4 linked regions of the Homo sapiens genome follow. The protein of the gene in region 4 interacts with the protein of the main gene of each other region in a pairwise test. Each region holds a gene or a part of one and is shown on either strand. Other genes may lie near its edges.

Region 1 (8,018 bases), on a different chromosome or scaffold from region 4:
CAACAGAACAAAATTTCAGCAGAATGGAATGAAGGAAGCTGAATTGTGTGTCAGGAGATCCAGGCCACACAAAGGGACGTGCTGCAATATTTTTATTCCTTGCACCAGAAATAACCTGTTATCTACAACCCTGACTTTTTCTCAGATGCCCCTACCCCCCTCCACCCCTCCCCAGCCCATCTCTCCTTCATCACTGCTAAACTCAGGCCTTCTGCCTCATGAGGCCTCCAAAGCCCCTTGGAAATTATAAATTCCTTGACCGTCCTACTCATCGGCCTAAATAATTCAACAGAAAAAAATTTTTTTAATTATGCTACTTAAAAAAAAAAAAGCTCATTCCAAATATGTCAGAATGTGACCAGTCAGCCCTGAAGGATTTCGTTACTAAAAAAATAAAATCTCCCAAATGCAATGGCGATGATGGGAAATGTCAAACCTCTGCCATTGTCAAATATATTTCACAGAGATAATATATTTGACTTATTCCACTTAAACATCCAAATTTCCACAAAACAGGGTTGGGAATCTATGGACTGGGGCCACCAGTTTTCCCAAGACCAGCTAGTGGCTGGCAAAAGGAGCAAAGGGTTTCCTTTCTTGCCCCAGGTGACCCACCATCAATTTCCAATCCAAGGTCCCTCCAAGATCCCGCCCTGCAAGTCCTAACAATATGCTGTTTTTGGACAGAAAAATTGTAACTTTTGGGGGATAGGCTCAAAATCCCCAGCAAGTTCAATTAGATACTAATTTATCACAAAACGCTTCATCTTTGGGTGGGTACTTTATTCTCATCTGTCAAATTTCAATTCGGTCAATATTTATTTGCCTTCTTAAATTTTTTTTTCTTTTTTGTTTCACCTTCATGTGATTCATTTTAAGGCCAAAACCTCCACATGAAATATTGTTTGCATATATGCTTTCATATTCCAAAGGCAAACCTTGGGTTTGGCTTTTGTTTGTATTTTGATTATTTTTCCTTTATTTTGTTGCTGCTAAAACCAGCTGAGTTGGTGTTATATCACATTTCTTCAGCAAAGTAAGTGTTCTACCAAGGAAGATGGATAAGAATCAGAATTTTCATCTCCTTTTTGCCCATCCCTCTTTTATCTTTTTCTTGTTAAGTCAGTAAAATTTGTGCATTTTTTTTTTTTGGTCACAAACCCCCCAAAATGATCAAGGCTAATGGATTTTTCCCCCTTTGAAAGTAATCAGGTTTTTGAAAAATAACAAATATTGATAAACTACCAACCCCACATCACAATCAAAGAGGCCTGAAACCAATCTAAATTTTTTTTAAGTAATAAATTTTTCAAATTGGAAGGGTGAACAAGACAGAAAAGGGAAAATTTTCTTCCTTACCAAGGATTCCTCAATCCTTGTCTTCATCAATTGATTCAGTTGCATGTCATAAAAAATGAGCTTCTGTGAATCCACTGTTAGTTTTTTCATAATAATGTTAATTATGCATATCTTATTTTAATGGCGGTCTCTCCTACAAATCTGTGGGCTACTCAATTTGTATAATGTATGAATTTACATTTTTTCCACTTAATATTGCTCAAAAAAGGTTCCTGACATTTTCTGGATAAAACAACAACAAAAAAGAAATGCCTAGACCTTTCAGGAAACAAAATCAGAAAACAGTCTTAATTATTCCATCAAAACAAAAAAAACACACACACACACAAAACCCAACAAATACAGAAAAAAAGAAAGAAAGGATTTCACTGTAACTTTTCTAGTTTCTGTTTTCTTTAGAATCTTAGGATTTAAATGCAGTAAAATGTAAATGCAAAATTAAAAAAAAAAAACTACAATTTTTGGGTGTGTCCAAAGCCAACATTTTAGGTTCTATTTTCTCTTTTAAATCCTTCGTTCGTGGAAATAGAAAAACTTTAAATATTGCCATATAGAGAAATTAGTCTTTTTTTGCCCGCTGAGCTAAACAAGTTCCAAATTACAATGAAGTACAATTTCTAATTGCTTCATAAAGCCAATTCTCTCAGTTTTCCCTAAACTCAACAATTTCCCTCCTTTCTTTATTCCAATTAGTTTTTTTCTCAAACTAAAATGAGTTGGGTACCCAAACTGACTTTGCTTTTAGGAGGTTTTTTGCTTTCTCCCCTCCAAGAACTAAATTCATTCAAATTCCAGCTTAATTTTCATTTACATATTATCTGGATTTGGCTTCAGAAATAAAAATTGTCTCCATGCTTCTGGAAAGATCAAAGTGAAAATTTTCACCCGAAAAAAGAAAAAAAAAGAATCTCTTACCCCTCCACTGCCTGGTAGTGCAAACTTTTGAAAAAATAAGAAATAAAAAATATTTCTTTTCAATTTTAATTTCTTTTTTATTTACAAAATAGTATCCTCTAGGTGGCGTCGTTTTAATGGGAAAAAACTACCGTTTGAAGAAAAATTAGAAAAAAAAAATTGAGAAAGGAAAATATGGCCTAAAAAAAAAGATTGTTGCAAAAATGGGGGACCTGGGGGGAAAGACCTCCCGGGGGGTCATCGGGGACCCCGAGCGCAGAGAGGGTCAGGGGAAAATTGCAAATTTGGGGGGGAGGGGGCAGAGCTGGAAGGGGTTGCATTTTTGCAAAATGTGAATTGTCCAAACTGAAATGGCTGCTCTGTTCTCTCGCCGCTTTGTTTTCTGGGCTCCGGTCCGAGCCCGGGGCCGGAGGGGGCGCTGGGTGGGGGCCCCAAAAGACCCCCTCGTCACCCCCACCCTCCTCGCACCCCGCAGCGCCCGGGGGGGTGCTCTCCGGACCCCGACCCTCCCGATTGCGCCCACAAAAAGCCCGCAAACGTGCCCAGGCACTTTGCATTTTGCAAATCTTGCAATGAAGTGGCGCAGCGCCCCGGGCCCCGGCCCCCCGGGGTCCCCCGCGCGGTGCATGCCCCCGGCCCCCCGTCGTACCTGCGGAGCCGCCGCGCCGCCCGGCTGGTTCATGGGTCCGTGCGGGAGGAGGCGGCCCCGGCGCGTCCTGCTCCTCCCGGGCCGGGCTGCTGGTGCGCGCACAATGCCGCCGCCGCCGCCGCCGCCGCCGCCGCCGCTCCCTCCTCCGCCCGCCCCGCTCAGGCCGGGGGGGCGGGGGCGCTGGGGGCGCGCGGGGGGGGCGCCGGCCCTCGCCCCCACCCCCGGCCCGCACCGGCCGCGCCGCGGCAGCCGCTGCCGCCGAGCCGCCCCTCGCGGGGCCGCCGCCGCCCCCCGCCGCCCTGCCCGCCCCCGGGCCGGCCTCGCCGTGCGGCCCGCGAGCTCGGGGCCTCGGCCTCGGCCTCCGCGCTGCCGGCCTCCGCGTGGCACACAAAGCCGGCCGGTCCAGGGGCGCGCCCGCCCTCCCGTCCGCCAGCCCCAGTGCCGCGGCACACCCGCCCCCCCAAACTTTCCCGCGCCGCGCCCTGCCCTCCCCGCGCCCCCCGCGCCCGCTCCCCGGCTCCCTTCTGCCCTCCCCCAGTCCCCCAGCCCCTCGGAAATGTCATTTTCACGCTGGAAAAAAAGTTCAGGGAGCCGGCTCTCGGCGGAACGCAAGAGGTTAATGGGAACTCTGTACCCCGCTGTACCCCCCCGCCAAAAAAAAACCAGATTGATTTTTGAAATAAAAGTTTTCAAGAGCTGGCTTGCTGGAAGACTGGAAGGCTTATTGGGAATATTCTATTGCCCTGCCACTCCTCCCAAAAAAACTAATGTAATAAAATAAAAGTTTGAAGGACTGGCCCCATGTCCGACAAGAGTGGTTAAGGGGACTCTAGCCCCCCAGCCAGACTGATTTTTAAAATAAATACTTGAGGAGCCGCTTTTATGTGAAATGCCAGTGAAGCGGCTGTTTCTGCCTATCCTTGCCAAATTAAAATATATATATGTATTTCTAAATAAAAGTTTGAAAAACTGGTCCTACAGTAAGACAAGAGGGGTTAAAGGTTAAGGGATATTAGCGCCCCCCACCCCCATATCCCCCAGTTAGGTTGATTTAGAGAAGGAAAATTTGAGAAACTTGCATGTGAAATAAAACGTGAACCAGGATATTTCTTTCCAACACCCCAAAATAGCCAGTTTTTTTGTTGTTGTTATTGTTGTTTTTTTTTTTTTAACTTGAGCAACTGCCTCCTTGTGACTTGGGAAAGTTTAAAAGGGATTTTTTTTTCTATTCTCTTCCCTATTCTCCTAAAAAATCCGATTTTTTAAAAATTGAAAGTATGAAGGACCTGCCCTATTATAGAGACAAGGAGGGATTACTGGATCCATCCTACATCTCCCACAACTGGTTGATTTTTGGAATAAAAATGTTAAGAATTGCTCTTCTATGAGATGCAAGGTGAACAGAAATCCTTCTTTGCCCCTCCCCAAAAGAAAACTGCAAGGGTACTTTTCAAAAATAAAAGCATTGGAAATTAAGAGTAACCAGGTATCTTCTCTCTGCCCCCACCTTCAAAAATCAAATGTTCTTTTTTGTAATGTTTAAAGAACTGGAGCAATATGAGACAGGAAAGGTTACAGAAATGTTTTCCCTACAATCCTCAAAAAAGTTATTTTTAAAATTTTAGGAAACGGAGGCACTGTGTAGAAGACACCTCCTTTCCCTAATAAGTTAAATTGGGAGTTTAGCCCTATATGGGAGACATGAAATTAAGAAACACAACTCTTGCCCCCCTTAACAAACACTCATAACACAAGACGTTAAAAGGAGTCTTCTGGCCGGGAGTGGTGGCTCACGCAAATAATCCTTTTGGGAGGCCAAGGCGGGTAGATCACGAGGTCAGGAATTGGAGACCAGCCTGGCCAACATAGTGAACCCCTTCTCCACTAAATATACAAAAATTAGCCAGGTGTGGTGGCACACACCAGCCAGTAGTCCCAGGTACTCAGGAGGCTGAGGCAGGAGAATTGCTTGAACCCGGGAGGCGGAGGTTGCAGTGAGCCGAGACCACGCCATTGCACTCCAGCCTGGGTGACAGAGTGGGACTCCGTCTCAAAAAAAAAAAAAAAAGAGGAGTCTTCTAACCACTTCCTCCCAGACCCCTAAAAGTTGGAGATTCCTTAAAAATTGAAATTGAAAGTGGCCATTTTTCTCCCCACCAACCTGGTAAGTATGTCCCTGCCAGAGGTTTGGCAGCCTCTGCCCAGGCTGGTGTGCAGCAGGCACCAAGGTGAGTAGGGGCAGCTTGCAGAGCATGGCAGAGTTGGGTCCTGTGAGCCCTGAGCATATGTGCTGGGCAGGCAGCCCCTAGTCCACCTGCCCCTCATCCACCAGGTGGTTGGGGCCTTGTTACCTGGAAAGATGCTCCCAGATTTGATGTCTGTCTGGCTCGATCCTTGTGTGAAGGTTTCTGGGCACCTGCCTCAAGGCCGGGTCCCCGCCTCTGCCTAGTAGAGCCAAGCCTGATCTTAGGCCTTAGAGTAGAAACTAGATCCAAAATGACATGGGGTCTCAGTCACCACAGCTGAAAGCTGTATGGTACCAAGGAAAAACTCCTGCCCTGGGAGTCGGGAAAACTTGATACGATAATTATTCATTTGAGCACTTACTATGTGCCAGGTGCCTTGTATCTAGTAGGACAGACACACACCATGAAGAGGAGAACTATTTGCAGCAGCTCTTCTCAAATGCAAGTGATCCTTGGAATCAGCAGGAGAGCCTATTCAGATTGCTGAGCCCACCCCAGAGTTTTGAATTCATTTGGTCTAGGTTAGGCACCAAGAGTTTGCATTTCTAATGCGTTTCCAGGTGATGCTGATGTTGCTGGTTTAAGGGCCACCTTCTTCAAACCTTTGCAGTACAGTGCCAACAGTGAGGTGCTCAGTGCAGCTCAAGGAAGGGTCCTACCCAGCCCGGGCGTGGGTCAGCGAAGATTCCAGGAGGGTCTTAATTAGATGGAAGTTTCTCTCTAGAGCAGGGATTCTTAAATGGGGACTTTGCATTGGTTTGGGGAACCAAGAACTACTCCTTAACCAAATGTATGTCTGTATGTGCATTTTGGGGGAGAAAATCTGTGGCTTTCACTCAAGAGCATCAGTGACCACCAACCTGAAATAATCCACAGCCTGTCTTCAGGCACCTCTGGCCTATAAAAGCTCATGGTCCTTCTCAGCCTTCTTTTTCTAGAATCACTGCAAGCCCTTTCCGTTTCTTCGCCACCCATGGGTCCCAGGAGCTGGGCCTTCTATCAGCACATCTCGACCATAGAGGCATCTCCTCCCCAGGGGTCTCGGCCTTGAAGAGTGCTTCCTTTCTTCATTCTGTATCAGATGGGCCATGAAGGGTATCCTCAGGGGACAATGGCTGAGCTTGAAGTCTTCCTGACAAAATCCAGCTTATAAATGAACCCACATATTTCCCAAACCACAGCAGAAACTATGCAATCACTCAGAGCTGTGGTTTGTCTCCATTCAGGAATTAACTGAGGGCATACTCACCTTGTGGAACTTTTGGAGTGTCCTGAGGACCTGCCCAAGAAAGTGGCTAGGTACTGTATGAGGTGGCTATGGTCCCATCAGGTGCACTGTGGTCATATCTTAGCCCCCTCACTTTCGAGAGCAATGACACTGTGACCAGTGTGGGGAAGCCAAGAGAAGGGGAGGACCCCTACAAACACCAGGCGAGCTCTGGGCAGAGCTTCAAGGGGGAGGGTGTGTGGGTGGAGGAGCCAACATATTTTGTGATCGCCCAGGGGACAAGACCAGACCTGCTCTATGATGGAGCAGGCTCTGTGATACAGCGTTGGAAAAATGACTGTTGGTCAGGGGTGTGGAAGAACAGATGCTCACATCGGTGGAAGCGTGGTCCGGGAGGGACACCCACAGGCTCTCCCATCTTCTGAGGGTCTGTGGTTCAACTCGGCGTGCCTGAGTTTATCAAATTCTGGAAACTTTTTACTCCTTCCATGCCTAGCCCACTGCCTCCAGGACTAGCATTACTACATCATTTTATGAGCCCAGCCTCTGGCGTCAGTTCCCAGGTTCACTGGCTCTGGTCCTCTTCCCCTGCGGTGTGGTCTCCAGCAGATGGCTCAACTTCTTGCCCCCACTTCTTCATCTTTAAAATGATAGGCCAGGCTCGGTGGCTCACGCCTGTAACCCCAGCACTTTGGGAGGCCAGGGCGGGTGGATCACAAGGTCCGGAGATTGATACCATCCTGGCTAACACGGTGAAACCCCATTTCTACTAAAAATACAAAAATTAGCCAGGTGTGGTGGCACACGCCTGTAGTCCCAGCTACTCAGGAGGCTGAGGCAAGAGAATCGCTTGAACCCGGGAGGCGGAGGTTGCAGTGAGCCAAGATCAAGCCACTGTGCTCCAGCCTGGGCGACAGAGCGAGACTCCATCTCAAAAAATAAAATAAAATAAAATAAAATAAAATAAAATAAAAAGAAATAAAATAAAGTAAAATAAATAAAATGATGCTAACAGTTTTATCTACCTCATGGGGTGCCCTGAGGATTAAATGATGTAATGTGTGAAGTCCTTAGAAAGTGTATTGTGTAGCGAGGTCAGGAGATCAAGACCATCCTGGCTAACACGGTGAAACCCCGTCTCTACTAAAAATATAAAAAAATTAGCCGGGTGCCTGTAGTCCCAGCTACTTGGGAGGATGAGGCAGGAGAATGGCGTGAACCCGGGAGGCGGAGCTTGCAGTGAGCCGAGATCGCGCCACTACACTCCAGCCTGGGCGACAGAGCGAGACTCTGTCTCAAAAAAAAAAAAGAAAGTGTCTCGTGTAGAGAAAGCGCACACGTCGGCAGGTGGAATTTCCGGTGCCCTCACTACCCGGGTGATCCTGGCCTCAGGGCTTCATCTCTGAGCTTTAGTGTCTGTCTTTGAAAAATGGGGATTCTAAAACCTACCAGTCTTATCAATACGCTTTCAGTTGTAACCAATAGAAAAGAAATCACGCTAAACAGACAAAAAATGGAAAATTAGAAGGTGGATCATGGTATCCAAGGGCAGGAAATGAAACAAAGCCTCAAGGGGATTCAGAGCCAGGAACTAGAAAAGTTTCAGGACCTGGGCTTTCTC
Region 2 (7,635 bases), on a different chromosome or scaffold from region 4:
CAGTACAACTTAACCCTTGCTCAAAGCTTTGCAAATGCTACCTTTTTATCCTCAAAATATGTGGTGAGCTATGTGGAAAAGAATTAAACTGCTTTTTATATTTCGTTTGTATCTTGTTACATGAAGGATTGAAGATAACTAATAAACTCAGCTCAGAGCTAGAGTGAATGTTCCTTTGAGAACTGAAACCAAAAGTTTGGCCATTCTCATTTCATCTTACATGCAGATCGGAGTTCTCCTTCCCCTTCCTCTCTTTCCTCGAGCGTTCAATCGTGTGTTTGCCTAAGAAACCATTTTTTCACTTGGTCAAGAGCTTTAGTGTCATTTAATTATCTTAGGTGCATATATTTTTTGTCTCATATTGATTGTTAGTCTTTTGGAGACATAGATGGTGATCCTGCATTTTTAAAAAATTCCTTTTGGGGTAAGGACAGTGACTTGTCTGTTGAAAACTTGGTACAAATTTGCTGAGGGAAGAGAAATCTAAAATAGATTAATTCATCAAAAAATTCCAGAGCATCAACTGTGTGCCAGCTACTGGGCTAAGCATGGAGGATTCAAAGATAAATAAAACAGAAGCCTTGTTTTCAAGGAGTTCGAAGACTCAAGGTTAAGGCAGATCCACAGAGGTGCCAGCCTTACTGCACTGCATAGTATTTTATATTAATATATACACATCATCTGTGTATAGAGTACTTCAATATCCAGAAAGGAAACAAGTCTTTTGAGATTTACCTGTTATGATTTTAGGATTTCTACTGCAATTGCCAGTAGCTTGATCTTTATGCCCTGGGGGCTGTCTTTGGGGCAGAAAGTATGGCAGTGCAGGGTTTGCAGGGATTCCGTTTGCATTCTGTGAACAGGTGATAATGTTTTTAATGAACTTAAGTTACATTCATTTTTTAATTGATATATAATAGATGTATATTTATATTTATATAATATATAATCAAGTCAGGGCTTCAAATTATTCTCTACTAGCTATTTTGAAATATACAATAGATTATTGTTTACTATTGTCATTCTACTGATTTATTAAACACTAGGTCTTATTTCTTCTATCTAAATGTATTTTAAGTCACACTCATTTCTGCCAGAGAATTCCTTGGACCCTCTGCATATATCCCTGAGACTCTTGAGGGTTCACTGACTCCCAGACTCTAAAGAGCTAGAAGAGGTTTTGGAGACCATGTCATCCATTTTCCCACCCTGGGGAAGAATCCTCTTTCTATGGTATTCCTGGCAATCACTCTGTCTATGCTGGAATATTTCTATGACAGAGTGCACTGTTTTTCTAGGCAACCCATTTCACACTCAACTGTTAATTTACATAGGGTTGGTACTTGATATTTCTTGGAAGAATAAACTATATTGAGCAAAATTTCCTCCACTGATCCTTGCTATCCTCTGCAGAGTACCAAGGAACAAATCTATCTCTTTTCTACTCAAGAGTTCTTGAATGTTCAAAAGTTGAGTAGAAAAAAGCTTTCTCTCCCTTGCATCTCCTCATCTCCAGGCATTCTGTGAAGTTTTTTCAAACCTCTCTTCATGTGATGGCACACCCAGGCCTGACAGAGAGAGCCTGCCTTGTGGTTGTTCCTATTTTCCAGTTCTTTGTGATCTCAAAGTAGCTACAGTTTCTAGAGTCTGGATTATGTTCTACTCATTGCTAAGTCAGGCAGCACGACCATATTCTTTGATGTGGTCATTGCATTTCTATGAATGCAGCCTCCACCAGCATTTGCTCTTTGGGGAGCCATCACAACACACTCACGATGGGCTTAGAGTCAGCTAAAACCACTAAATCCCAGCACTGGGTCCTCCACACGCTTGAGGACTATGCATTCTAGCCAAGTTGCAGGCAACAATATGTGGAGTTGGAGAGGGCAAAGTCAGGGAAGAGTGGCTGGCATATTGCTAGAGAGTCCCTTCCGATTTACCTCTGCTTTCTCCATAAGGACCAAAACAAACAAGAGAAACAACAGATTTAAGTAACAGAAACAATAAGGTAGAGTGCATGTTTGAAGAATTTCTTCGAACTCCTAGGTTTTACATACCGACCACATGTAGGTGATCAAATCGCTCAAGCAAGACAAAGGACATTTTCATTTGTTGTTTCCACGGTTTGAACTTTTCCACTAAATGGCCTCCTGCTTTTGCCGAGTCTCCACTTAAGCCTGGACAGTGAAGCTTGAATTAATATTGGTGATGCTGTCCGTTGCTTAAGACATGTCAGAGGGGTCACGGTTTTCCTAAGCTTTGAGGGGCTGCTGGACATTTCAAATGCAGCAAATGTCACAGAATAGCCTTTAAAAACCCTCAAATTGTGCATTGTTCATCTCTTTTTTAAGGAAAGATTTGCTAATATTGGGAATTTCCTGAGTGGCAGCTCTGGGTGTGTGATCTACACACACCTTCGCGCGCTTTTGTGTCAGGGGCTGGGCCCTGGTTGAGCACAGAGGTGCCCGGGCATATGGGCTGGGTGGGAACATGAGTAATGCCTGCCAGAGCCTCATCCACGCGAGGCGTGTGGTCGTGGACCCACTTACGACTACCAAGAGGACATGCAGTAAAGAAGAGAAAGAAAGGGAGGAAGAAAGTCTGGCGTCCCAGTGAGGGCTGGAAGCACAGTTCCAGGATAGGTCTGCTGAGTTCCTCAGAACCCCTCGCTCCCTGTCCTGCACTCAGCTGGAGTCGCCGATGCGACAGCATCTTAACATGGAAGTATACTGACGTCGGATTCCGGGGATGCAGCTGCTGCAAAAACTACAACTGTATTTTCTTGTCCGCGCACCACAGCCCGCCTCTCTCTGACCCACATTCCCCGGTCAGCTCTTGCATTCTGCACGCTTTTCATTCTCCCCCCACGACCCCGTCGACCAGAAGCTTCGTCGCCTGCCTCGTACTCGCGCCTGACTGCTCGTGAAGTACGAGCCTCCGCGGCCCTTACTTTGTTCCGGTGCGGATAGGCGGCGGGAGGAGCTGCATGAGGCCGGCGCTGACCGCCCGCCGCTGCGGGAGGCTGTGAGAGCCCGGCAGAGGGCAAGGGACGGCCACGCCCTCCTCCCGTCGCTATAGAAACGGCTCCCGCCCTTTTTATGACTCCAGAGCTGGAAGGGCTTTCTCAGGCTGTGGTCCCAAACCACCTTGCAGAGTAGCAGCCTGAAGAACATACTCCTCGTCCTCCTACTCGCATTCTCTTGCCCCAGTTCTTTAAAGTATAGGGCAAGAATTGAACAAAATCCCAGCATAAAGAACTTAAAGTTGGTTGCCCAGACCGGACACATGAAATTATCCCTACTCTCTCCCCTTCTTCAAGCGAAGCATGTGGTTATCAGAATTACATCACAGAAGTTCTGGCCGGGCGCGGTGGTTTTACACCTGCAATCCCAGCACTTTGGGAGGCCTAGGCAGACCACTTGAGGTCTGGAGTTCGAGACCAAACTGCTCAAAGTAGTGAGACCCCCCCGCCCCTGTCTCTATTTAGACATTTTTTTCTGTAATCCCAGCACTTTGAGAGGCCAAGGCGGGTGGATCACGAGGCCAAGAGATCAAGACCATCCTGGCCAACATGGTGAAACCCCGTCTCTACTAAAAATACAAAAATAAGCGGGGCGTGGTGGTGCGTGCCTGTAGTCCCAGCTACTTGGGAGGCTGAGGCAGGAGAATCGCTGGAACCCGGGAGGCGGAGGTTGCAGTGAGCCGAGATCGCGCCACTGCACTCCAGCCTGGCGACAGAACGAGACTGCATCTCAAAAAAAAAAAAAAAAAAGAAAAAAAGAAAAAGAAAAAGAAAAAAAGTAAGTACATAGCAAAAGTTCTGGGTAAAATCCATATATCAGCTGAACACTTTTTGAGTGCTTACTCTGCACCAGATTGTAGAAAGCATGAAAAGGGAAATTTGTAATTGAGTGGCAGTAGGTTGACCTGGAGGTGCACAGTCTGGTCCAGGCAGAAAAGACATTCAAATGAAGCTTTCTGAAAGAGCTGAGTTGAATCTGAGTCTTCAAGGACAGGCAGTAGTTGTCTACGTAAAGGAGGCAAGTCCTATTCTGAAGGCCAGAGCCATAGAAAAGCTTGGTACCATTGTGCCAGCACCCAGTTTAGTGGGGCAGGGATCAAAGTTGCACGTGGGCAGAGACAAGGTTGAAGCAGCAGGAAAGGGGGAGTCAGACACCAAGTAGGCTATGAACTCGACCAGGGTAAGGTGTGTATGTGCAGACTGCAGAGGGGTGTTCATGCTGACTTTATTTTATAAAACCCTCTGTGGCAATAACAATGGAAGTAGGCCCGAGTAGGTTAAGAATCAAGGCAAGGATGCCTGTTAGAAATAGTGAGTGATGATGTTTCAGAGTAAGGGAGAGCACATGGAAGAGTAGTTTTGAGAAATTTAGGAAATGGAGTAAGACTTGGTGACTGGATGTGAAAGTCGAGAGAAGACTCAATCCCAGGATGACACCTTTGGCACCTGCAGTGATGGTGGTGCCATTCATTTACCAACAGAAAACACAGGAGAGATGTCAGGGGTAGGAGGAGACGTTGAATTTAACAACTGATCTGCTACATCAAATTGTCAGTGGACCATCCACAGGTTCTGTTGTCAAGAGCATGGTATAGGGTACAGACCCTGACTTGGCAGTCACTGTCACATAAGTGACCCCTGGAGTTTGCATAGAACATGAAACTGGTAAGACAAGTAGGTAAAGGTGACACAACAGATTAGAAAGCTGCAAAATAATGAAGAGTAGGCATGGAGATGGGAAGAAATGACAAAGAAATGTGTCACATGAGCCAAGGAAATCAAATGTTTTCATCAGAGTATAATGAATAGGGTGTATAAGATTAGGTGAGAAAATTGTACACTGGGTTTGGCAACATAAAGGTATCAGTGCTTTCAGCCAGGCTGGTTTTAACATACTTTGAGGTAATTTTCAAATCCCCTGATAAACTATAAAGAACACGGCAAAAACAGGTTATTGAGCTGGTGCCAGATGATTAATCAATTATATCAGTACCTAATATACAGTAGGCTCTTATGTTTATTGTTGATCTACACCAAATAGAGTACCTCAGTGCTATGTAACTGGAAAATATGTTTTTAAAAAGGGGACAGGTGGGGCAGGTTAGGGGGCTGGTATATGACACTATAAAAATATACGTTAGATAAAAGAAGTGTACAACAGCAATAGACAAATGCTCACTTTAATCACAATTCTAAATTAATTATTTTCACATTAATATAGATATTTCCATAAACCAAGAAAAACTGAGTTATTATACATTTTTTAACAGCTAACATGATTTGAAAATTTTTTATTAAAAATTGATCAGAAGCTAGTTGAAATTCTCAATGTAAATATAAAATATTCATTACAATTGTTTTTCAAAGTAAATTCAGATCTAAGCTTCCTGAAAAGCTGTACTATCTCATATCATAATAGGGATGACTAAGTACTTGACAACTACTTTCTAAAGAACTTAACAAAAAGTGACTACTTGAAGATTACATTTACAACAGAAAGGCTAACATTCTCTGCGGAGCTCTCATTTTATCATGAAATGTGGACAATCAGGAACACGTGGATGAGTGGTATCAAGAAAAAGGGCATTTCAAAATATTTCCACTTTTATTAAAGGTTTTGACAATGAAGATTTCATAAAATGTCTTTAAATACTATTTTCTAGAGAATAACCATCTAAATCGGAGACATATGCCATAAAACTGCAACCATTTTAGTGTGTAAAATAATTCTAAGTTTGTACTATAAAAAGATTTGGCTAAAATACAAAACATCTTTGCGATAAAACTGACAACGTAGCTTAAGTAGCTTATAAGATTTCAGAAATGTCTTCTGAAAGAAATAAGAATGTTTTCCTCTGCCAGATAAAACTGAACAGTTAAAGTTAAGGTGCTATAAACTAGACAAAGCTAGAAAGGCACATCATGTAACTAGAAAAGAACAGCATGTGATGTGGACTTCATGTCGAACTGATAGAAAAACAGAATACGCTCTTCACAAGGAAAGGTATGAGAAGATAATTCTTATAAACAAACTTCTCATTGAAGTCTTGAAGAGTTTTACAGAGAACATAATCATAAAATGGCTAGAGGTCATTTATAGGACATGGTAATGGATTCCTTTATATTACAATACCTGCCTCAAATATAAACACAAATCAAATATAAACACCCTTGTAAAGCTGTGATTCTCCCAACCAAACATTCCTCCTGTACCACACTCAGGTGCTAGTGGCATTTGGATGCAAAGGTTTAACTCGTGCTAATCTGGACAAGCCAAGGCGGAGACTCTGATTGGGAGACTTCACAGACACTACCACCAGTGGGCTGCTGCTACTTCTGCTACCTCCAGATGCCGCTGAAAGGAAACATATGATGTGATGCTGATGATGTCAGAAATCTCTTAACAAAGATTAATTTATAAAATAAGCAGCAAAAAAAAGGTAGTTAAGCATTATTCTGCTTTCCAGTGTCTATCAAGCAATAAACTAGATCAAAAGAACAGAATGTTCTAAAGAGCAGAAATTAATACAGTATTGCCTATTTCCAAACATCCCAGAAGCCAAGGTAATGACACTAAAACCTCACCATGAAAGCTGAAAAAGGAAGGCTGGGAACAAATAATGCTAGTTGTAAAGGCATACAAAAATGCATATAATTATAATTTCTAAAGTAATAGAAAAAGCAAATGCATTTTTAAGGTCCTGCAATTTTTACAAGTAGTCCTTGAAGAGTCTATTTTTCAATTATTAAATACCTTTAAAAATGGCAAATATTGTTATTTATTTATACTAGTTTCATTATACTATTATCCTAATGTCGCAATTATTTCCATCTATTTCAAAATTATCCACATGAATGTTCACAGTTGATGGTGACTGTAGTTGCTCGCCTACACAACAGTATTATAAATTTAAAATAAATAATTATACCTGCTACCCTATAACTCAGACTATACTGCTTTATTGTTTTCTAGTTTGAAAGGTATAAAATAGTATTTTATTTTAATTTACACTTCCTTAATTACCAGTGAGACTGAAACTCTTCATATTTTCTTGTTGTATTAATAGTTCTTGGGGACACTGTTATATTTATGCCTCTGGCTAATTTTACTTTTGGGGTCTTGGTGGTCTTCTCCAGTTGTATAAGATAGGTAACAAACTGGCAATCTGAGGGCCAAATCTAGCTCTCAGATATATTGTTTTGGTTCACATGGTGCTAACAACAACAACAAAAAAAATCAACTTACAAAAATTAGCAGATTTCATATTAAAATCTGGATTTCTGGCTTCTCTTGAAAACAGCAATCAGATCTAGAAATACCAAGCCCATAATCTTGCATGGAAACAATACGATGGAGCTGAGTAGCAGCTGCTTCCTTCAAAAGGGTACGCGCTCCTGAGTCCAACAAAATTCCTACCCACGCAAGTCTACTGCATGGGCCCAATTCACTCGTTTACATCACTTGCCTGACTGTCACATGCTGACTTGATAAGCACTTTGTGCTTGATGACATTAACTCTTTATCCATCATTCCACTGTTTCCTTGTATTTTTTTAATTATGCTACTTTTAAATTTCTATAGTTATATCACTCCATTTAAATTTCCTTCATTG
Region 3 (6,967 bases), on a different chromosome or scaffold from region 4:
ACTAGCAAGAAACTGTAAGACACACCTTTCCCAAACAGCTTGGCTAAACTGTGTGGCAAGGACAGCCAAGAAAACAGGCATTGGGCAGGTCTGGCAGGACCAGCAGGGCTCTTCTGCATAGCAAAGGAGTCATTCTCCATGCTTGCGATGAGTCTTGAGCAAAAGCAGAACCCAGAGGAGGCAGAACGCACAGCAAAGGCAGAGACTACTACAGTGGAGATTTAAGCTGAAAGGTGCTAAACCAGAACATTGGAAAAATAAAGTGGGGTTGGATTAATCGTTTTGTAAGTCAGAGGAGGAGTTTAGGCTGAATGAGACAGGTGACAGGAGGCTCTAGTAGGTTCCAGGGCAGGAGAATGACTTTTTGCAGGAGGATTACTCTAACACAAGTTGAACCAGGGAGGGAGGGAGCAATGAATGAGTAAAGGCAATGGAGCAAGGGAGGGGACACACAGGAATGAAAGTCTTAACCGCAGCAAAGGCAATAGAAAGGAAAGGAATGAATGCACGTAAGAGATTTTCAGAAGAAAAAGCAGGACTTAATCATGTCAAGCTTTTAAGCCCTGAGAAGTGCAGAAGATTGGATAGCTGGGGAGAATGGACGAAGGGGAATGCGCCTTAGACCAGCTGTCTGCAATCCAACTGACTAAAAAAGTTAAGCCCAGGAAAGCAAACTTGGTTCTATATCTACAATGCTGGCTTTCTGATTTGTTTTGTTTTGTTTTGTTGAGACGGAGTCTCGTGCTGTCGCCCAGGCTGGAGTGCAGTGGCGCGATCTCAGCTCACTGCAACCTGCCTTCCGGGTTCAAGCGATTATCCTGCCTCAGCCTCCCGAGTAGCTGGGCCTACAGGCGCGTACCACCACGCCGGGCTAATTTTTTGTATTTTTAGTAGAGATGCCACTGCACTCCAGTGTGGGTGACAGAGTGAGACCCTGTCTCAAACAGAAAAAAATAGGTAAATAAACATACATCCTTTCTTTCTGACATTCTCCGAGCGTTTTATTACTATTAATGGTTTTTTTCCGATTCTCAAGAACACGGTTTTCACCGTGTGACACAGGACAGTCTCAATCTCCTGATCTCGTGATCCTTCCACCTCGGCCTCCCAAAGTGCTAGGATTACAGGCGTGAGCCACCGCGCCCGGCCTACAATGTTTTAAGTTAAGCTTTGAAGAACTACACAGCTGAGTGCCCCGTCTCCTTTAAGGATGTGAAATGCAAACACTCACGATTTTTTGTTAAATCTAAGAACATCAGGAGATACGACTACTCAGATTCAAGGACACTGACATTACTTGACAAAGCAGGATGCAAAAAGAGGGCCCTTCCTGCCCACCCCGCAGACAGGGCTCATCATATGAGAGGCAAGTATCAAGAACGAAGGCTCTGGAAACAAACTCCCTAGGTCTGAATCCTGCTGCCCTACTTAGGAGATGGAAAAACCTAGAGAAACTTGGTTACCTAGGAGGAGCAACATACTGTGTTGCTTTTTGGTTTGGAAAGGGGGGGAAGTAGATAGAGGTGCTGAAGAGGTCTGAAATGCTGATTTAGGCAGAAGGTGAGTCACCACTTTGAGTTTCAGTTTCCCCAGCTGTTAATTAAAAAAAAAAAAAAAGGCGGGGTGGTGGTGGGGAGGATAAAATCTACCTTATTAGAAGCCATAAGGGCTGCACATTCCTTCTGAAGCAACCTGTGATGTTCTTAAGCGTTATGTAAATGTTAGTTGTAGGTAATATCAATACAAAGAATAACGCTATTTTTTGTTAACATATTAAATATCCGGCCGGGGTGGCTCCCGCGTGTAGTCCCAGCACTTTGGGTGACCGAGATGGGAGGATGACTTGAGTCCAAGAGTTCGAGACCTGCCCGGGCAACATAGTGAAATCCCCTACCAAAAAAAAAAAAAAAAATGAGCCGGGCGTGGTGGCGCGCTCCTATAGTACTAGCTACTCGGGAGGCTGAGGTGGGAGGATCACTTGAGCCCGGGAAGTCGAGGCTGCAGTGAACTGAGACCGCGCCACACTGCACTCCACTGTGGGTGACAGAGTGAGACCCTGTCTCAAATAGAAAAAAATAGGTAAACATAAATCCTTTCTTTCTGACATTCTCCGAGCGTTTTATTACTATTAATAGTTTTTTTCCGATTCTCAAGAGGAACTGAGATCCCAAAAAGGCTCAGAACTGCAGTAGTGGAGGCCCGGGACTGGGGGATAAAGGCTTAGGTGGTGGACGAGGCTGCGGGCCCAGCAACAGGCCTTGCGTACCATCCTGGGGGCCGGGGAACTGACAACAACAGGCGACATGCGCAGCGCACCCGATCCGTGCCACACGCTGTGCCTGCGCTTCATACACATCCCCCACTTTCATCCTCGCGACAGCCCTCTGAGGTAGGTACTTTCGTCAGCGCCACTTTACAAATGGGGAAACTGAGGCTCCGGGGATCAAGCCGCTATCCAAGGTCACATGGCTCGCGAGCCGAAAAGGCACGTTCGCTGGCTCCCGAGACTGCGTTCCCAACCCAGGCGCATCGCGGCGGACGGCGGGGGCGGGGAGGAGCGGGAGCCCGGAGACCCGGACCGATCGAGGCCGCGGGCGCGCGGGGGCGGCGGCCGGACTCACCTTGGCGCTGTGCACCGCCTCCTGCGCCCCGCAGAGCTGCAGCCAGATGCGCGCGGGCAGCGGCTCCTCAGCCCCTAGCGCGCCGAGCACGGCTAGGCTCACGCCAAACAGGCCCTCGATACGGCCGCGGCTCTGCTCCAGCAGCTCCGCCTTCTCAGCTGGCGCAGTGAACTCGTCCAGCACCGCCCGGGCCGCCATGGCGGGCGCGGCCTCCCGCGGCGGCGCCGGGGGCCGGCGGCGGCGACGCCCCCTCAGCTTGCTGCCGCTGCTCCCAAGCCAGTCAGGCGGCGTCGGCCCTTCCCGGCCGCCTCGCCCCCGCCCGCGCCCCGCCGCCCGCCCTCAGGCCCGGCTATACCATCCCGCCACGACCGCAGCAGCTTGGCAATTGCTGGCAGCGAACCCCTCCGCCCCTTTGCCGCCGCCGCGGGCCGGGCCCCGCCGCCGCGCATGCGCCCCGGCCGCAGCCGTCATTGAGGCTCGCCGCCCCCTAGGGGAAGGGAGTAGGGTGAAGGCGACGGAAGTTGACGTCACCCTCAGTCGCCATGTTGGTTGAGAATAAAGGGATGGTTTTGGAGGCCTGGGCGGACTTCTTTGATGAGGGGAAACCGCTTTCGCGGGATCTGGTGGATGTAGATATATGGGTTTATAGTTGGGGAAACTTAATTGCCAGGAGGCGAGACTGAGAGTGTCACAGGGATTGGACTTGACCTCAGACATCTTGACGCTCAAACCAGGATTCTAGCAGTTGAGTTATTCAGTTTCACGTTAATCCACAGGCAGACGGGACTTTTCTTTCTCTGTTTCTTCCCTTCCTCCCTACCCTTTTACCTTCTTAGCTGCCCTTCTCACTTTTTTCTCTTTCCCTTTTTATTTCTTTCAGTAAAAATGGTAGCAAGAAGAGAAGAAAATGGGCATACTTACGGAGAATTGAAAATCAAAAAAATGATTAAGATAAATTCAAGAAGGCCGGGCGCGGTGGCTCACGCCTGTAATCCCAGCAGTCTGTGGGGGCAGAGGCGGGTGGATCACTCGAGGTCCGGAGTTCGAGACCAGCCTGACCAAAATGGAGAAACCCCCGTCTCTGCTAAAAAAAAAAAAAAAAAAAAAAAAAAAAAAAAAAAAAAAAAAAAAAATTAGCGCGGCGTGGTGGCACATGCCTGTAATCCCAGCTACTAGGGAGGCTGAGGCAGGAGAATCGCTTGAACCCTGGAGGCAGAGGTTGCGTGCGGTGAGCCGAGATTGCGCCATTGCACTCCAGCCTGGGCAAGAAGAGCGAAACTCCGTCTCAAAAAAAAAAAAAAAGATAAATTCAGGAGAGTGATTTCTTCTGTGAGGGAAGAAAGGGGATATGTTATGGGAGAAGCCCGAAAAGTGGGAGTTTGGGGGCTCACTCATGATCTTCCCTGGGACTGGAGCAAATAAACCCTAACCCCTCTCCAGGTCTGTTTTCTGATCTGTAAAATAAAAGAGTACACTCAGTTATCTCTAAGGCCTTTTCCAGGCCTTTATATTCTCTGAGTCCATGAAAACAGATTGTGGAAGATAAAGTGTTGGATTCCTTTCCTTCAGCTAAATATTGTGGCTATAGTAGATAGGGGCTCTGGGAATATTACCTCTCTCTGTTTTAATTTTTCATCTATAAAATGTAGATAATAATAGTACTTCCTATTGTGAATATTAATACAGCACCCAACACTGTAAGTGCTCACTGAACATTATTATTGCTAACTTAAGCAATATATTTAAGGCCTAATTTTCAGGGAAAATCTTTGTGTGGATTATGCAACCACAGTGAACTTGTGGGCCCAGGAGTCTGTGCCATCTGTGTACATCCCTGCTAGAGGAAAAAGAGGAGGAGCTAAAGATGCTGTAGTTGGAAATACCAAGGGGGAATGGTCTCTGTAGGAGGATTTACCCAAGGTAAAACCTATGAGAGATCCAGGCTTCTGGGGGTTTCCATATGTCTCAGAAACTCAGGTGTGGTCTCCCAGTGCCCCACCAAGAAGTGATTCAGCACAGGGAAGAGAACCACTAGGCTCACAGATCAACAGATTCCTGCTCCCCTGGGCTTTTCCCTTGATGTCCACACAACCAGCAGCCTTGCTCCATCAGGTAGATGACGTGGGATTGGCTGAGGCAGGTCAGGTGGCGAGTGTGGCATTGCTGATGCATTGCTTGCAGAACCGCAGTCTATCAGTAAGGCATGTTGTCAACACAGCATGTTATTTCCTGCCTTATTGCACTCACCTTAAACGGAATTGCTATTGTTCAGTGATTAGACAGGGCTTTCCCCAGGGCTGGTTCCTGTTTGCTCCCAGTGACTTCCCTGCTTGCGATTCTTAATTGCTTAATTGTAAGAGGTGAAGAGGGAGGCTGCCTTGAAAAACACACCACAGTGCCTTCCTCTCCCCACTTCCCTCCAAAAAAATCCCACCCAAAACCAACAGAAGCAGTGCATACACACACCCTTAAAAAATGCTGGGCCAAGAAGCTGTGCTAATAAGTCACTGGGTTGGTGTATAATTGAAGATACATAGTTTTGGGAGGTTTTTCCTCCAGTTTTAATTTAAGACTTGCCAGGCTGGGTGTGGTGGCTCACACCCGTAATCCCAGCACTTTGGGAGGCCAAGGAGGGCGGATCACTTGAGCCCAGGAGTTGGAGACCAGCCTGGCCAACGTAGTGAAACCCCGTCTCTATTCAAAATATAAAAAATTAGCTGGGTGTGGTGGCACATGCCTGTAATCCTAGCTACTCGGGAGGCTGAGGCAGGAGAATTGCTTGGACCCCGGAGGCGGAGGTTGCAGTGAGCCAAGATCGCGCCACTGCACTCCAGCCTGGGTAACAAGAGCAAGATTCCATCTCAGAAAAAAAAAAAAAAAAAAGACTTGCCAGTTCATATTTGATCAGCATTTCCCTTTAGGGAACTCTCAAGGTTTCCTGAGTGTAAGGAACAAGGAGAAAGAGAGAGAGAAAAAAAAAATCCCCTTTCAAGAACTTCCTTGCTTCATGCTGTTTCTCACTCAACCACAACTTCCCTCGGTTAACCAGCCTTGCCTATCTGGCTGGCCTGACCAGCCAGGACAGTCGATGCCAGAGATGAAACCTTATGAATTCTGTATTCTAGATACTTTAGCTGTGTTTTTCCTTAATCTCATAACAACCTCAAGAGCCCATAAAATGGTATTGAGAGAATCACTTATTTTTGCTTCTCATATTTTCAAGGACAGGAGGAGATTCCTATTCCATTCCCCAGCGGGGCCAAGTGTGGAGGAACATGTCTATCTAGCTTTCATTCTCCTTTTCCCCAGAGCAGGAGGAGGATTTCTCTGACTGATAACTTTCTGAGAAGGTGGGGTGCTGGGTTGGACCGCCCTGTACCCTGGTAATGGGCTGTCTGCAGTTGCTGTGTTAGTGACTGGGGGTAAAGTATTTTCACTTCAACCACATCCTCCAGTCTAGCTCTTGTCAGCAATGATGATGACATTTTGATCTCTACCTGCTTTTCTTCCTTAGTTCTGAACTCAGAAGGGGCAGAAAGAGTGTTTATTGGTCTCCTAAAACTCCAACAGTGGTTGCTATTGTTTTTCTTCCTGTTTCAAAGATGAGGAAACCAGCCGGGGGTGGTGGCAGGTGCCTGTAGTCTCAGCTACTTGGAAGCCTGGGGTGGGAGGATTGTTTAAGCCCAGGAGTTCAAGGTGTGCCTGGGCAACATAGCGATATCCTGTCTCTTACCTGCCCCCCCACAAAAAATGTAAATTAAGGGGGAAAAAAGAGGAAACAGAAGAATAGAGAAATTCTGGAATGTTCCACAGAGCTAGTCAGTGAAGTGGTAGAAATAGCCATTTGAATCCAGGCAGTCTGACTGTAAGCAGGCAGCTTGGCTTCAAACTGCATTTTAAAACCTTGTTTTCTTTCCTTCTTTCTCCCCAGTCTCAAGATACAACTTTGAGACAAGCTGCATATGTGTTTCCTGTCATCTTGACATACAGCCTTGGAATGGACTGTGAACCTCCACTCCCTATCCTTCCCCATTCCATTCTCCCATGCCATATGCTCATTTATTTACCCAAACACTCGTCAAGCACATACCATGCTCACTTATCTGGTCATGTATTTCCTTAGAAGCCTCAGGGGCTGGATTTTTTTTTTTTTTTTTTTTTTTGCGATGGAGTCTTGCTCTGTCTCCCAGGCTGGAGTGCAGTGGTGCCATCTCAGCTCACTGCAACCTCTGCCTCCCGGGTTCAAGCAATTCTCCTATCTCAGCCTCCCGAGCAGCTGAGATTACAGGCATGCACCACCACATCCAGCTAATTTTTTTTTTTTTTGAGACGGAGTCTCGCTCTGT
Region 4 (4,560 bases):
AGGCAGGAGAACTGACAGTTCTAACAAGCTCGCAGGTGATGCAGATGCTGCAGATTCCTGGACCACACTTTGCATAGCACTGACCAAGACCAAAGGCTTGCATCTCTAGTGAGAGAAAGTCAGGTCCATGGGATGGGGTTGAGGATATATGTATGGACCAACTGCTAGGATTCTCCTAGATCACACTGTAAAGACTCCCAGTGCTCTGTTCAAATAATCATTGCTCTTCTCTTCCTCACCCCATCTATAAGACTTGAAATCAAGCAAACCTTGTTCTGGGTTTCCACTTCTATATAGGCTTTCTTTTATTGTGTTTTAAAAATTCCCTGGAGAATATTTTGAGTGTTGCAAAAGAATTGTATTTTGAATAGGGAAAGGCAAATAGTGGATGAGAGACAGTAAAAGAAAATGAATTATATGTCATAAAGTAGTATGAATAAATGGTAGATGTTGAATAAATATTTGTCAACATCATAACTGCAAAAACACAAAATGATGAAAAGGCAACAGAGACAGGCAGAGACAGAGGGTCTTGGTGCCACAAAAATGATTTTATTTTGAACCAGAAAGGAACAGCAATCAAGACAATAGTCAGGGCCGAGGGCTTGGCAGTGTGACTTAAGTACCGGGGATTGAATTTGTCCAGGTGCAAGGAGTGACATAAAGAGAATCAATTTTTCATGTCCAAGCCAAGCTGATACAGATGATGATACTTATCAGTGATTCCCATTTACACAGGCTTGGATTGCTTTTCAGATATCAGATTTTTGGAACTATTTTATAAATATTTTTAAAGGTGATGGAGCCACTGGAGTGTAGGTGAATTGGTGCCCCTCCCCTTTTCTTTTTGGGTGTATCAAGCATATAATCAATGACAGGAAAAGTGAAAGGTTTTTATGAGAGTTTTGCATTAAAAGAAAACCAACGATCAAGTTTCTACACTGCAGCACTGTTGATATTTGAGCAAGACAACTCTTCGTGGTCGGGGGCTGCGCTTGCACTGTAGGATGTTTAACGGCGTCCATGACCTCTACGCACTAGATGCTGGTAGCTTCCCTTCCCCGGCTGCGACAACCAAAAGTTGCCATTGCATTGCCAAATGTCTCCTGGGGGGCAAAATCGAGCACTGGTTGAGAAGCGCTGTTTTCAAAAACATCCTCCTGCCCCCATCATTGTCTTGGTGTGCTTTTTACCATTTTATTAAGATAGACCAGATGGTCAACTTCCCAACACCAAATGCACATGTATGCCAGCATATATGCGTGTCTCTTTGCAGGTATCTGCATGTTCCTGGAGCTGAGATGGAATTCCACGGTCACTGGAGGACGTTAGTTCAGTTCCTCAGCAAGTTTAAGGTCAATATATCAGTACCGTAATAAAAAAGCCTGTCTGTATTCAAGCTGTTTCTTTTCCTCCAGCAGAAACCATCGTCAATATTTGCAGTCAGTTTTTGAAGTCACTTTCTTTTAAAGCTGGAAAGAATCTTCACCCAGGCCCACCCTCATCTTAATCCACTATTTAGAGTCCTACTTGAATGATATCGCCAGCAACTTTCAACTTTGGATCCAGATTTCTTTATTTGTATCCACCAGGAAGAGAGGTACCACGTTTCTGAGTTCTTTTATGAGCACTCGCTATGTAATTTGCAAGGCCCAGTGCGAAGTGAAAACGCAGGCCCCTTGTTCAAAAATTGTTAAGAATTTCAAGACATCAACAGCAGAGCATTAAATCAGGCTTAGGGCCCTTCTGAACTCCTGGGCTCTGGGCATACCCATGACACCAGACCTGGCAGTCTTGGTTGGTGCTGCATTGATTTTGTTGTATTAATTTAATTGGCACTGCCATCTCTTTTGCCCCTGTATCGCAGTGTTTCCTGTGGTGAGGACCCCAAATAATAAAATACTGTGACCTCAATCAGTTTAAAGAGAATGCAAAATTACACTGCAGCAAATTTTTACAGCATACATTTTTTAGACTTTCAAAAAAAAAATTCACACGGGAATCTTTTCTACATCATTATAGTAATTAAACACGGTGGCCTTTCACCATATACATATTTTCCTGTAAATATGACAACCTGGAACTAGTAACTGCTACTATCCACAATGCTTTTAAGTTAGCCAAGAGTGAGACTTCCACAACAAAATTATGACATAATCTCTCATGTCCTTATAAAAATAGCCAAACATACCCTAAATGGCTTACTGTGAAAATTTGAGTAGTAACTTCTTAATATTGAAAAACATTATTTTCATGGAAATATTGTCCTTCTACTAAGTGTTTTATGTTAACATCATAAGGCAAACTGTAGCATTTATTGGTACCTGGAGACCGTGATTTTAAAAACTCAGAAGCTGAGTTTTAGACCCTTTTATTTAGAACCTGTTAGTGTACAAAGTGCATTAAAATATCCATTATCCAGTTACCCAAAATGTATGTAAAAATTACTGAGACAACCCTTTCAGTTTACTCAGAGAAGGCAAACACACATTGCTTTTATATTGTAATAAAAAGAAAAACCTATAAGGTTTCCAGAGAAAGATTGTTTTTTTTCCATTGAGGCGTCCATCTTTTAGATGTGAAATTGTCTTAGGTATCTATCAAAATATTCATCTGGGTATAAATAATATAGTAAATATATAGAATCTATCTGTTAAGAAAAAGGAGAGTGTCTGCTAGGGAAGAGGATGGAAGGACCCAGGAAGCTGGCTTGGCCTCCCTTGAAATCCAGATTTGCAATCACATGACCTTTGGCCACGTGATGCTGAAACAATGAGTTCATTGACTTATTTCAGGGAGGCAGTTGGTTGATTTGGTTAAAAACAAAATAACTAAAAACAATGTCTAAATCCACTAGTCTGCTCAGTCAAAATGGCTGACCCAGTATCCCAGGTAAATATTTTAGCAATTGAAACCATTTATAGAGGTCATGCCCTTCATCAAACTAGAACCAATGCCAGAGTTCTGGGCCAAGAACTGCTCAAGAAAGCCTTAATTCATGGACCATTCCAACGCATCAGATTGGCATGCAAAGAATCCCAGCTGACATTTTATAAGCAGGTTCCTGAATAACGAGTTTGAATTTTTTTTTTTTTTTTTTGGTCTTACAACTCTATTGTAAACTATACTAGACTATAGAGGGACTTCTACATCTTTCAAGATGTGTTTAATAAAGGTCTGTTTATAATAACTTTTGAGGCATGAATCTAGCAAATAGTACTTTATACAATGTCCCTTGTCATTACCAACTCATAAATATTAAGTGTTTTTCAGTGACTTATGTTTGGATGTGGTAGTGCTGATCAGGGCCATGTGCTGATGTCCTGGAGAGCAAAATCAATCCAAAGTGGTGCTGCTATTTGTGACAGAACATGTTTATTTACTCAGCCCCGGAGACAAAAGGAAAATTGATATGGGGGAGCGGGAAATAGGAGAACTATTAAATGTAGTGAAGAAATTTCACAGGTCTAAAGGAACTATTAAAAGGAAGGATAAAGTAGATTCTATACTATAAAACAGAATCCTACCTCTGATAAAAGACAAATCAGCCTGAATTTTTGAATAATCAATAGGATTCAAAATGACTATTTTCAATTGCAATCTCATTCTTAATGTTCTTCCAGAACCCTTAACCCTGAGAGAAGCAGGGCAAAATGTGGCCAAAGGATTCAGAACCTTTCTTTCCAACATTATCCCATCAGCTATGAGAAGGTAAAGATTTAGCCACGGCAAGGTCCGAGGTCCAAAATCAACTCTTTTCATTCTCTGTCTTGCTCTCCATTTTAGTTGATCTGATACAACTTTTTGACATCACAATTAAAACACTTCAAATTAAACCAGAGTAAGAAAGCCTGTTTCCTCCCCTACTAGGTTCAAACACATCCTGTTATGCACCATCGAGGTGAGAAGACCTACCATGGGATCATCATGGGATATCAGGTAAGAAGATGAGTAACATACAAAACTACAAAAGTTTTTGTTTTTTTGTAAGCCCACAGATTGTGATGAAATGAAGGTTGTAAATAGCTGATAAACTTATGGGCCTCTTAATGTGCAAAACCAAGTAATTCCTAAAAGTTGTAATCCTGATTATGTTTCTCTTATAAATAATCTATAGATTTTCCTCTAAATACAAAAAAATTAAAGAAATTATTAAAGCCCGTACTTAATACAAGACACAGTAAAAGGAGAGGAATCTCTTGTTTTGAGCCCTATCTGAGCCGATTTCGGGACACTTCTGGTGAGATTTCATTACACTCATGAAGCCTGTGCTTTCTCAGTCCCCTAAATAGTGGCCTGAACCTTACTGTTCCCCAGAAAGCAGCTCCATGTGGCCAGACGCTCACGGCAGCTGCTCTGTGCAGTCCAAATGGTCTGGGATAGGGAGCCCAGTGATAATCGTCAGACACTTGTTCCACACGGTGAAGGTGGGGCAAACAGGCTGCGCAAATGCGACGTCGAAGGTGTAGAGGTGGATGGAGTTCAAAGCATCATAAAAGGCGATAGAGCCGTTATCATAGTCCAGCAGGATGCCCACGCGCCGGAGGTGGGGGGCAGGCT

Evidence for each region.
Region 1: the proteins of MID1 (region 4) and ZNF618 interact in binary tests that used the Homo sapiens proteins (3 or more experiments, as listed by UniProt).
Region 2: the proteins of MID1 (region 4) and DYRK4 interact in binary tests that used the Homo sapiens proteins (3 or more experiments, as listed by UniProt).
Region 3: the proteins of MID1 (region 4) and N4BP1 interact in binary tests that used the Homo sapiens proteins (3 or more experiments, as listed by UniProt).

The regions. Positions count from the first base shown.
Region 1 is NC_000009.12:113,871,319-113,879,336, reverse strand, and holds the start of ZNF618 (zinc finger protein 618), read right to left. Parts: upstream 3,029-8,018; 5' UTR 2,957-3,028; coding exon 2,924-2,956; intron 1-2,923. UniProt on the Homo sapiens protein: Regulates UHRF2 function as a specific 5-hydroxymethylcytosine (5hmC) reader by regulating its chromatin localization.
Region 2 is NC_000012.12:4,557,599-4,565,233, reverse strand, and holds the start of DYRK4 (dual specificity tyrosine-phosphorylation-regulated kinase 4), read right to left. Parts: upstream 3,027-7,635; 5' UTR 2,989-3,026; coding exon 2,951-2,988; intron 1-2,950. Other genes in the region: RAD51AP1 (RAD51-associated protein 1), read right to left, coding at 6,241-6,377. UniProt on the Homo sapiens protein: Possible non-essential role in spermiogenesis.
Region 3 is NC_000016.10:48,607,154-48,614,120, forward strand, and holds the start of N4BP1 (NEDD4-binding protein 1), read right to left. Parts: upstream 3,028-6,967; 5' UTR 2,820-3,027; coding exon 2,622-2,819; intron 1-2,621. UniProt on the Homo sapiens protein: Potent suppressor of cytokine production that acts as a regulator of innate immune signaling and inflammation.
Region 4 is NC_000023.11:10,445,026-10,449,585, forward strand, and holds the end of MID1 (E3 ubiquitin-protein ligase Midline-1), read right to left. Parts: coding exon 4,343-4,560; 3' UTR 531-4,342; downstream 1-530. UniProt on the Homo sapiens protein: Has E3 ubiquitin ligase activity towards IGBP1, promoting its monoubiquitination, which results in deprotection of the catalytic subunit of protein phosphatase PP2A, and its subsequent degradation by polyubiquitination.